2 separate regions of the Homo sapiens genome follow, and region 1 is linked to region 2. Evidence: fine-mapped expression QTL. A gene starts in region 2. The other region holds a variant in brackets. All regions are shown on one strand. Distances are from middle to middle.

Evidence for each region. PIP is the estimated chance that this variant, and not a neighbour inherited with it, causes the effect.
Region 1: its variant is fine-mapped to the expression of LINC00635 in testis (GTEx, PIP above 0.99).

The regions. Positions count from the first base shown.
Region 1 is chr3:107,839,466-107,844,855 of GRCh38, forward strand. It overlaps LINC00635 (long intergenic non-protein coding RNA 635), which reads right to left. Exons shown (of 8, transcript NR_024276.1): 6 at 4,211-4,314; 7 at 2,640-2,747; 8 at 2,197-2,554. Among named protein-coding and RNA genes, the nearest start is that of LINC00635, 36 kb to the right of the region's middle. The variant T/C (reference allele first, on the strand shown) is at 2,345.
Region 2 is chr3:107,875,148-107,880,537 of GRCh38, forward strand. LINC00635 (long intergenic non-protein coding RNA 635) reads right to left here and starts at 2,921. Exons shown (of 8, transcript NR_024276.1): 1 at 2,755-2,921; 2 at 983-1,039.

The DNA.
Region 1 (5,390 bases), 36 kb before region 2:
AACTGGCCTATCTCCCTTTTGCCTGTAGGAGGCAAGAACTTTGTCCATCTTGTTCACTGCAGTATCCCCAGTCCCTACAACAGTGCCCGGCACATGCAAACATGCGCTGAATGAATGGTTAACTTCAGGCCTTGGGAAAGGTAAGACCCCAGGATCCCAGAGGAATTGCTGGATTCCACGGGATGTGGGCAGCGCCTGGAAGTAACTCAGTCCTATACAGAATCTCAGGAAGAAGAGGAGCTCTGTGTCAGGGCAGGAGGATCCTGTGTCTAGGGAGAGATCTGCCATAAGGGTGAGATTGGTGGGTATGTTGCAGGTGGGAGAATCACTAGGGAACTTGAGGCAGATGAAGGTAGCATAAATAAGATTGGAGAGATGATGCGCCTTGCTTGACTGGCTGGAGCTGCAGCTCTCTATCCACCGGGTCAGAAGTGGAACAGGCATCCAGCGCCTCATGAATGCAGACCTTTCCCGACTCTACTCCTCAAAAACTCAGGTATCTTGGGGTCAAGCTTCTTTTCCTTTTTCAAACCTCAGATAAAAAGTGCTGGTTACAACTCCTTTCCATTGCAATTGAGTTACCAGCTCACAGTCCAAAGTTTGGTCAAGCAAGGAGCATCATCGCTCCTGTCCTGTGTGGCCTGCAGCACGGGCCGATTCAGTGGGAGAGGAGCACTCGAAAGAGAGAGAACAGATTTGCTGCTCATTCTGCACAGGGAGTGCTCGTTATGCGGCCGCCGTAACAAAACACCGTAGACTGGGTAGTTTAAACAACACACTTATTTTCTCACAGTCTGGAGTCCGGAGGTTCAAGATCTGGATGCCACCACGGCCAGGTTCTGATGAGGACCCTCTTCCTGGCTGAAGGGTTAGCTGGCTGCCTTCTCAGATGAGTAGGAGTGAGAGGGCGAGCCGGTGAGCTCTAGTGTCTGTCTCCTCCTATAAGGAAACGAATTCCATCATGAGGGGCCCACCGTCATGACCTTATCTAAACCTAATGATCTCCAAAGACCACATCTCCAAATAGCATCACATTAGGAATTAGGGCTTCAGCGATATGAATTTTTTTTTTTTTTTTTTTTTTTTGGTGGCAGGGGAAATCACAATTCAGTCCATAGCAAGAGCTAATTGAATATCTTCAGGGTAATCACTCCCCTCTAATAGGGGGAGAACTAACTCTGGTAACTTAAAGGTTATTTTCTTCCCTTATTGTGCCTAAGCCAAAGTGGCTTTCTGATCTCTGTCTTGTTTCTGCATAAAAAGAACAAAAAGTCATTTTAATGTGCAGGAGACGTTCTCATTCTACCTGTGAAAAATAGTATCAAAATGATAACTCACTTAGTTTGGGGCTTAGTGCTTTAAGGATGGTAGCTCCAAGAGGCCTTGGCATATAACATTCCTACCCTCGATTTTGAATTCAAAATTCAGATTGAAGTGGCTCAAAGCAAAGTATTATTTTTCTCCATTCTATAATTAGCCATCGCCAATAGCTAGTTGTCTAGCTGTTAATTCCTGTTTATATCCTGTAGTTCTTCAGCACATGCAGAATTGCTCTCACAAATCAGGGAGCGGAAGACAGACATCATGTGAAACAGAGGGGAATGTGATTGGCTTGTTGAGCCAGAAAGATCAGGCCTCTGAACAAGTGGTCTCTGATTAACTCTGAATTCTGACTGATTGGAGGTGTTTCACACATCAACAAATTCCACTGATGTTTCTATCGTCCACCGTTTGTTTGTTTGCATCACTATGCCCAGCCATCCCACCACTCAAGCTTTGGTTTCATGAAAAAAGCAAAACATTAAAAAGTTTAAAATGTGTTTCTGCTATCATGCCACCTCCCTGCAAACACCAGTCATTTTCTTAGCAGAGTAAAAACTAGGTTAATTATGGCAGCCTATGCCAGAGGTGACCTGGCAGGAATCCCACCCTCCATGCTTTTTGTTGGTTGTCTTTGTCTTAGGGTTTTTGCAAGAATTAAATAAAATAATTTGCATATGTAAAGCGCTTAACATGGTGCCATGCGCAATGAATATTAGTTCATTTAATTATTTTCATAATCCTGTGGAAAAAGTTATTTTCCCTTTGTATGACATAAGAACAGGCAGCTGAATGAATATTTGTTGAATGAAGATTATCTAGACCAATGGTTTCCGAAATTTCGGATTTCAAGGCTCATTAAAACTAAAAAGGAAATTGGGATTGATGCAGGGCTGCTTTTTATTTTTCTAAGCTGAGGCATGTGAAAATTAATTTCCAGTTACTAGCAACAATATGGTGTTACAAACAAAAGAAGTTGTACAGCAGATATAATATAGAATTAAAACAGAATAGATTTAACTTA[T/C]GGAAAGGCATGTCTTTTCTCCTGTTTTTCTTGATTTGCTGAGGAATGGTGGAAGTAAGGTGGTCTGGCAGAGGACACGAACTCACATTTAGAAATCTCTAATCCCATCCAAACCTTTGCCTCCATAAACCGTCTGAGCCAAGTGGTTGTTGCTCCTAATTTTAGGGATCCTTGGGCATGAAGATTTCACAGTCTTCCTGGCAGCTTCTTCTAAAGTTTAATCATGCTTAAGTTATGTTTGAGCCTGAGCCGCCCGGAGGATTGAATCCAAGCAATGAAGAAAAAGCAGCCTGACCTGTCTGCCTTCTGGGTGGGCTGTGCCTTCTGAGGTGTTCACATGTATAATCAAATCTCCTTGTGGTCATTCAGATTTGAAGATGAGCCTCACTCAGAGCAAGCACTCCTAGAATTAAAAAGAAAAAAAGTAAGCAATATGTGACTCTAACTGAAGGCTTTTTGCCCATTCTCTCTGGAAACATATAAGAATTCTGGAATTTGAGTCTATATAATATCATCCTTATGTCAAGTCATGAGATCTTCAATCAGAATAAATATGAAATTACAGTAAATATGAAATCAGAGTAAATATGAAATATGTCATGGTCTGGTATACCTCAACATAAAACCCCATACAGCCATTTGAGCCACTGGGGACATTTTACTTTTCATAGAAATTTCTGGGCCTCATAAAAGGACTTTTCATGTAAAGTAGTTATAATAAAATGAAGTCAGACTCTCTCCACTTGACATTTGTCACAATCATTGCAATGATATAGTTTGGGTATTTGTCCCCTCCAAATCTGATGTTGAAAATGGATCCCCAAAGTTGGACGTGGGGCCTATTAGGAGGTGTTTGGCCCAGTGGGACAGATCCCTCATGAATGGCTTAATGGCCTTCTCATGATTAAGTTCTCACTCTTAGTTCCTGTGAGATCTGGTTATTGAAAAGAGTCCGGCACCTCCTTTCTCTCTCTCTCACTTCTGCTCTCACCATGTAACACACTGGCTCCCCTTCCCCTTCTGCCATGATTGGAAGCTTCCTGAAGCTCTTACCAGAAGCAGATGCTAGCACCGTGCTGCTTGTACAGCCTACAGAGCTGTGAGCCAAATAAACCCATTTTCTTTAGAAATTACCTGGCCTTGGGTATTCGCAGGGGTTTCCAATCTTTTGGCTTCCCTGGGCCACACATAAAATACACTAATGGTAGCTGATAAGCGAAAAAAAATTGCAAAAAAAAAAACAAAACTCATAATGTTTTGAGAAAGTTTACGAATTTGTGCTGGGTCGCATTTAAAGCTGTCCCGAGCTGCATGCATCCCATGGGCCGCGAGTTGGACAAGCTTACTTTATTGCAACACAGACTAAGATATGCAAGGATCTGAAGTTTGTTGCTACTCAAAATGTTCAGTAGTAATCTGGGAGGCTATATATTCCCTTTGGGGCAGGGTCAAGTAAAATAGGGGGACTGACTTTATTTGTTAAGAAGATTAATTCATGTTACAGATAAGTTCCACGATGGGGCTGAATTTTCTTTATCCTTTTAAAATAAAAGCACATTACCAAAAATCCATCATTTTTTTTTTGTTTCTTTTAAGTTGGGTCTATACAAGGCAGCTAGTTACAGAATATGTTTCATTATTTGCACCCATTTGGTGTCTACATACAGCCTGAGAATGGTGAGAAGATTCGAGAGAACATGAATTTAACTTGAAGTAAATTTAGAGGACAATCAAAGGAATTATTCTAAGACTCTTCCTGATATAACAAATCAATAGGAATTTTGAAGTAAAAGTTGGGCTAAGGCTTTCTTACATTTAGTGTCTTTTTAAATCATGTTTTACAGTCATTTACCCTTCAGTCCTTACCTAAGATGACATCTTTTCTGTAGCCTCCAATCAGGCAGATGATTCAACAGAACAGTTGAAATTTTTATTATACTAGAAAGCTTCAACATGTGGGTTCACTGTATCTGAATGTGAACAGAAAACAACATTATAAAATATCAACCTGTAGTCTCAATCATCAGGATATTTACATATTTTAGTGTTTTTTAAAAAACCACCTTAAAATGAGTCTAATGGATTTCTATACACACATACAGACACAGACATTCATGCCATTAACCAGGGAATTGCCAAAAGCACACTCCCCATTGTGACTAAATGTTACCACTATATTAAAATGTTTTCTAGTTCTGAATCAATAAAGAAAGGCTTATGTTAAAAAAAAAAATGCGGCCGGGCGCTGTGGCTCACGCCTGTAATCCCAGCACTTTGGGAGGCCGAGGCGGGCGGATCACGAGGTCAGGAGATCGAGACCATCCCGGCTAAAACGGTGAAACCCCGTCTCTACTAAAAATACAAAAAAAATTAGCCGGGCGTAGTGGCGGGCGCCTGTAGTCCCAGCTACTTGGGAGGCTGAGGCAGGAGAATGGCGTGAACCCGGGAGGCGGAGCTTGCAGTGAGCCGAGATCCCGCCACTGCACTCCAGCCTGGGCGACAGAGCAGACTCCGTCTCAAAAAAAAAAAAAAAAAAAAAAAAAAAATGCTCCCAAGAACCCAGCAGACACCTAAAAAACAGGAAATATGTTGACTTTAATCAATATACACCATTTTAAGTGAAAGCATCACTCCTCAGAAAAGGGAGTGTGCTTTGGAGAAGGCAGAAAGACATTGTTCTGTGGGGGGATTTCTCTTTATCCAGGTGACTCTTTGCAATAAATTTTGAAAACTAAAATTAAACAGTAAATGTAGATTCCCTCTATGATATGTGGGTGTTTTGAGTAAAGTCCCAATTGTGCCCTTTGTCCTCCTCCCTCAGAAAATACAATCTTTAAATAAACATGGAAGGGCCCAAGACTGTACGAATTCACTCAATAGTACTCTTGCCAAAAGGAAGATGTATCACTGTTAAAATAGAAATGGCTGTAGTGGGCTTTCACAATCTAATGCCCCTGCTTTTAGCAAATTCAAGAAACTAGGACATTACTGGGTCCATATACTATCAAGGGATTCTCTTTTGAATACAAAGCACAGCCTAGACTGC
Region 2 (5,390 bases):
AGGGAAGAAGCAGCTCCAGAAACAGAAGGTAGGATTGGAGCAGTTGTCAACTGGTGCAAGGAGGTGCCAGAGATGGAGTCACTAGGAACAGCAGAGCCTGGAGATGATCTGAACATCAGATCAGAAGACACCCTGCTGGACCAGGCCTCCAAAATTCCCAAAGATAGTGGAAGGAGATTAGGAGGTGGTTGTTGTTGTTTTTTCATGAGAACATTTTCTCAGAACGAGAAAGAGGGAAATTTAATACAGTTGAAACCCCTGGAAAGCTGGGTGAAGATTTAAGCCAGGTAATGTATGAAGCAAGATCCAACCTCGGATTTATATCAGCAACTGGATCCTTAGAAACTGGGTCAGATATAATGATATGACATAATATAACCATGTCCTTCCATGGGTATTCAGAAACTGAAAGCGATCTTTCCTTTAACTGGGGCAATGAAGATGGGAAGAAAAGGTGATCATTCCATGTAACGTGACTACTCAACAGGCAAATTCCTCATCAAGTTCCTTCTGATATTGGGTAGAATGGAAGGAGATGGTGAAAATGTGTAGCTGATTCTCAAATGACAAAATGTGAAGACAGAGAATAGTCATGATTACTACTGGTTGCTTTTTTCCTCCCTTCTCACATCTCTAAGACCAAAGAAATGATCACTTGATCAGACTATTTGGGTAGAAAAGGAAAAATATCTGAGGGTTTGAATTAGAAGACCTAGGCTGAAGAATATTCTGGCTAGGCCATTTATTAATTATATGACTTGGGGCAATACATTCAACCCTTTTGATTTTAGAGAAAATAATATCTATCTCACACACCAATTGAAACAAAGAGTTTATGTGAAGGTGCTTTGTACTAAAGTTGCAAAATGCATACAAATAAAAGTAAGATAGTATATGAACAATTCAAACTAAAAAATACAATGATGCTATAAAAAAGACATAGTAAGTGTCGGTGAGGATGTAGAGAAGCTGAAATACTTACACACTGCTGATGGGAGTGTAAATATTATAGCCACTTCAGAAGACAGTCTGGCAGTTTCTGAAAATGTTAAATATAGATTTACCATTTGATCCAGCAATTCCACTCCTAGGTATATGCCCAAGAGAAATAAACACATATGTCCACACAAAAGCTTGTACATGCATGAATAACACAACAGCATTATTCACAATAATAAAAGGTGAAAACAGCCCAAATGTCCATCAACTGATGCATGAATACACAGAAGCAGTACATCTGTACAATGGAATATTGCTTAGAAATAAAAAGGAATAAAGTACTGATACCTGCTACAACACGAACAAACCTTGAAAACGTTATGCTAAGTGAAAGAAGCCAGTCACAAAAGATCACATATTGTATGATTCCATTTACATGTAATGTCTAGAATAGAAGAATTTAGAGAGACAGAAAGTAGGTTAGTGGTTGCCTGGGGCTGGGAGCTGGGTGGGGAGAAATGAAGAGTGACTGGTAATGGATATGGGGTTTATTTTGGGGGGGAATATAAATGTTCTGAAATTGACTCTGGTGATGGCTGCAAAACTCTGTGAATATATTACAAGCCCCTTAATTGTACACATAAAGAAACTTCAGTGAATTCTAATTTCCTCTGTGAGCAAAACCAGTGCAACACTAAATTTATCAGCAAGAAAAAGAGAATTCAAAATAATATACTTAAATAGACATATTTGGGTATATTTTGTACTGTTTTCATATTGATAAATTTTTGATTTCTGTATTTATATAGACATGAGATTTGTGGGACTGAGAGATTGTTAGTTACTCACAGTAACAATCTCCTCAGCTGCCCTTTTTCCCAATGCTTCCCTTTGGAGTGATGTGAACAGAGCTGGAGGCCACTCTACATGTAATGGGGTTGGTACTGTCGTGAGGAAGCCCCAAAAATATGAACCTGGGAGCGTGTATAAAATTTCCCCTTCTGAGGATGAGAAGCAAACTGAATCTACCTAATGTAAACAAATTCTCCTTGAGAAAAAAAGGAGGATTCTGGGTTGCTGCTCTTTGAAATATAAATACATGTCTCCATGAGGAAAGAAGACACAACCGTCTCTGAGTTTACAACCTCTGGAATGTCTCAAAGGCTTTGGGTCTCATCCCCCACTTGAAATGAAAACACAAACCTCCTGGAAGGAAAATCTCTTACCATCTAGTCAGTCATCATTTCACTTCCAAGACCTGTCTTTCAACCGGGTCCCAGTAAAATTTGCTCGGAAAGCTCAGCTCTAACCGTGCGGAAATATACAAGTATTCACTTTCTGACACACATTGGAAACATCGCTTTTACTCAAATACTTGTTTAAAAGGAACATCGATAGTGTATTCTTCTTTCTAAATCAAAGTATCATTTTGAAAAACATTTGTCTATTTAGATCAGAGTCAGAGATCCCAATATATATATTATGTTATATATATATTATATTTTGTGGGAAATTTATGAATTTGTAAATCATCTTGATGTCTTCATTTATTCATTTGCCGTTCCTGTAACTTTCACTCTACCTCACAGGGCTGAGGGGCCGTATATTTAGTATTCAGTGCTCCTGAAAATAGGCATCTGACTAGTATGTAATAAAATACCCTCAGTCCTCTAATAACTGAAAGTTGAGATTGCCTTTCATGGCAGATTGTGTTTTCCAGAACTGCAATAATATTTCCTGTCCCACATTCTCCTCCAGAACCTGGCCACATCTGCATCAAGAAGCAGAGCCTACTCCCCCTCTTTTTGAACCTACCTGGGCCTTTGTGTTTGTCTTGACAGTTAGAGTATGGTGGAAGTGATGCTTTGAGACTTCGGAGGCTGGAGAATGAATGGTAATACAGCTTCAGCCAGGCTCTCTCTCACTTAGGAAACGAGCCTTTGGAGCCCTGGGCCATCCGTAAGATGTTCAGCTACGCTGCTGTTGCTATGCTGAAGAGACCACACAGAGACAAAGAAGCATTCCTAGGGTCCCTAGAAGTTCCAAATTCCAGCTGTTTGAGTGGTCCCAGCCCACATGCCAGCCACGTGAGCATCAAGCATTCAGAATATTTGAGTGTCAACCATTGTCTGACAGCAAGTGTGTGAGACACTCTGAGTGAATACCGCCTAAGTGAGCTCAGGCAACTTCCCAAACTTGTGGGAGTTAATAATAAAATGATTGGTGGTATTTTACACCACCAAGTTTGGGAGTGGTTTGTTATGGGGCAATAGGCAACCAAAACACTCTTTGATTGTTAAACTAGCAAAAGCAATCCATGAAAGGATGAGATTATCTGTAGAAGTAACATCAGATGATATCTATTAAGTGTGCATTGGAGGAGACTTGGGAACACCAAATTCAATAAAGGCAAAATCTCAGGAAGGAAGGAACAGAAGTGACTGTCATCATGAAAGCTGATTCTCTCAATGGTAATGTACCAGATCTGCAGAAAGACTAAAGAGTGAGGAACATGAAATCTACATAAAAGAGAGTTACCAACAAGATTATATTGGTTTCTATACCACATTGTTTAATAAAGAAAGACATTGAATCTGGTGAATTATGGGAACAGGAATGATTTGTGGAACTTTTACTATGACCTGGGTTGTGTGTCCTCTAACACTAACTTCTCTTCCTTATTCTGACCCCCTGCCCACCGAGGAAGCTGATTAATGCTCGGCTCCCCCTTTAAACCTGCCCACAAGGAAAAAATGTGATGATCACATCAGCGCACAGTACTGTGGTGACCCAAGTGGCAGTTATCATTCTGTTGAGTGACACATTGTACATCGGGTTTATACATCAGTGCCTTCTAAGATTCGTTAACGTAAATCAGTCTCCTATAACGTTATCATCTCAGAGTGCATTGATAAAAATTGATTTTCTAGATGTGCACATCTGACAGGTGGAAAAGCAGCCTGATAACTCCTGAAAGGCTTTGTCACTCTGGCATCTGAGGTGGTATCACACACAGCCCTAATTATTCAGCTTACATCTGTTTAACAGAATTGCTATTTGTAATGATTATTACTGTTTAGCAACATTGTACACAAGACATTTTACTTGATTAAATTAAAATATTGAATTTATAGAATCAACGAAAGTTTTGGACCCTTACATTGACTAGATCCTAATCTTGGTTCTATAATAAATGAAACTATTTCTAATTTATTTTTGTTTTTCTATACTTTTGTCACCTTAGTCAATGGTAACAACAACAACAACTAACATTAATGTCACTGAGTGCTAGGCACACTGTTCATGAGGATGTTTTTAAAATGTTTAATCAATATATAATGATATCATCAGTGATTTTTTAAAATGTCAGGTTTTTAAGGTATAATTTACGTGGAGTAAAATGCACCCTTTTAAAGTGTACAGTTCTATGAGTTTTGATGAATATGTGCCATCATGTAACTAGTACCCAATCAAAATACAGAATATTTTCATCACTCCGAAAAGTTTACTTGTACCCCTTTGTGGTCAGTCTCCTACCTCCACCCCTAGACTCTGGCAACACTGAACTGTTTTTGGTCCTTCTAGTTTTACCTTTTCCAGAATGCCATATAAGTAGAATCCTAAAATATGTAACCTTTGAGCCTGGCTTCTTTCACTGAGCAAGATGCTTTTGAAGTTCATTGATGTTGTTGTGTCTATTGGTTGTTTGTTCGTTTTTATTGCTGAGAGGTATTCCATAGTATAGCTACATCACATTTTGCTTGGTCATTCAACAGTTGATGAACATTTGGGTTATTTCCAGTTCTTGGCAATAATAAATAAAACTGCTAAAAAATTGTGTACAGGTTTTTGGGTGGCATATGCCTTCATTTCTCTCGGGTAAATACTCCCAAGAGAAATGGGTAAATACTCCTAAATATTTACCCAAGAGAAATGGGTAAATATTTACCCATTTCCTAAGTATTTACCCAAAGAGAAATGGGTATTTACCCAAGAAAAATGAATTGTCAGGCTGTGTGACAAAGCTTGAAATCTATCTATCATCTCTGTCATCTATCTATCTATCCATCTATCTATCTATCTATCTATCTATCTATCTATCTATCTATCTATCTATCTATCATCATCTATCTATCATCATCATCTTTAAATAGAGATGGGGGTCTCACTATGTTACCTAGGCTGGTCTTGAACTCCTGGCCTCAAGCGATCCTCCTGCCTTGGCCTCCCAAAGTGCTGGGATTATAGGCATGAGACACCATACCCAGCCAAAGAGCTTCAAATATATTATGTTACTTAATTCTCACCAGCAGTCAACTGTGGAAAATATACTATTGTTAGTTTTTTGGGTTTTTTTTTCAGGAATCAAAGCTAAGACTTACAGAGGTTAGGTATGCCTAAAATTACATGGCTAGTGCAGATAAACCCAGGGTGTTTTTTTTGTTTGTTTT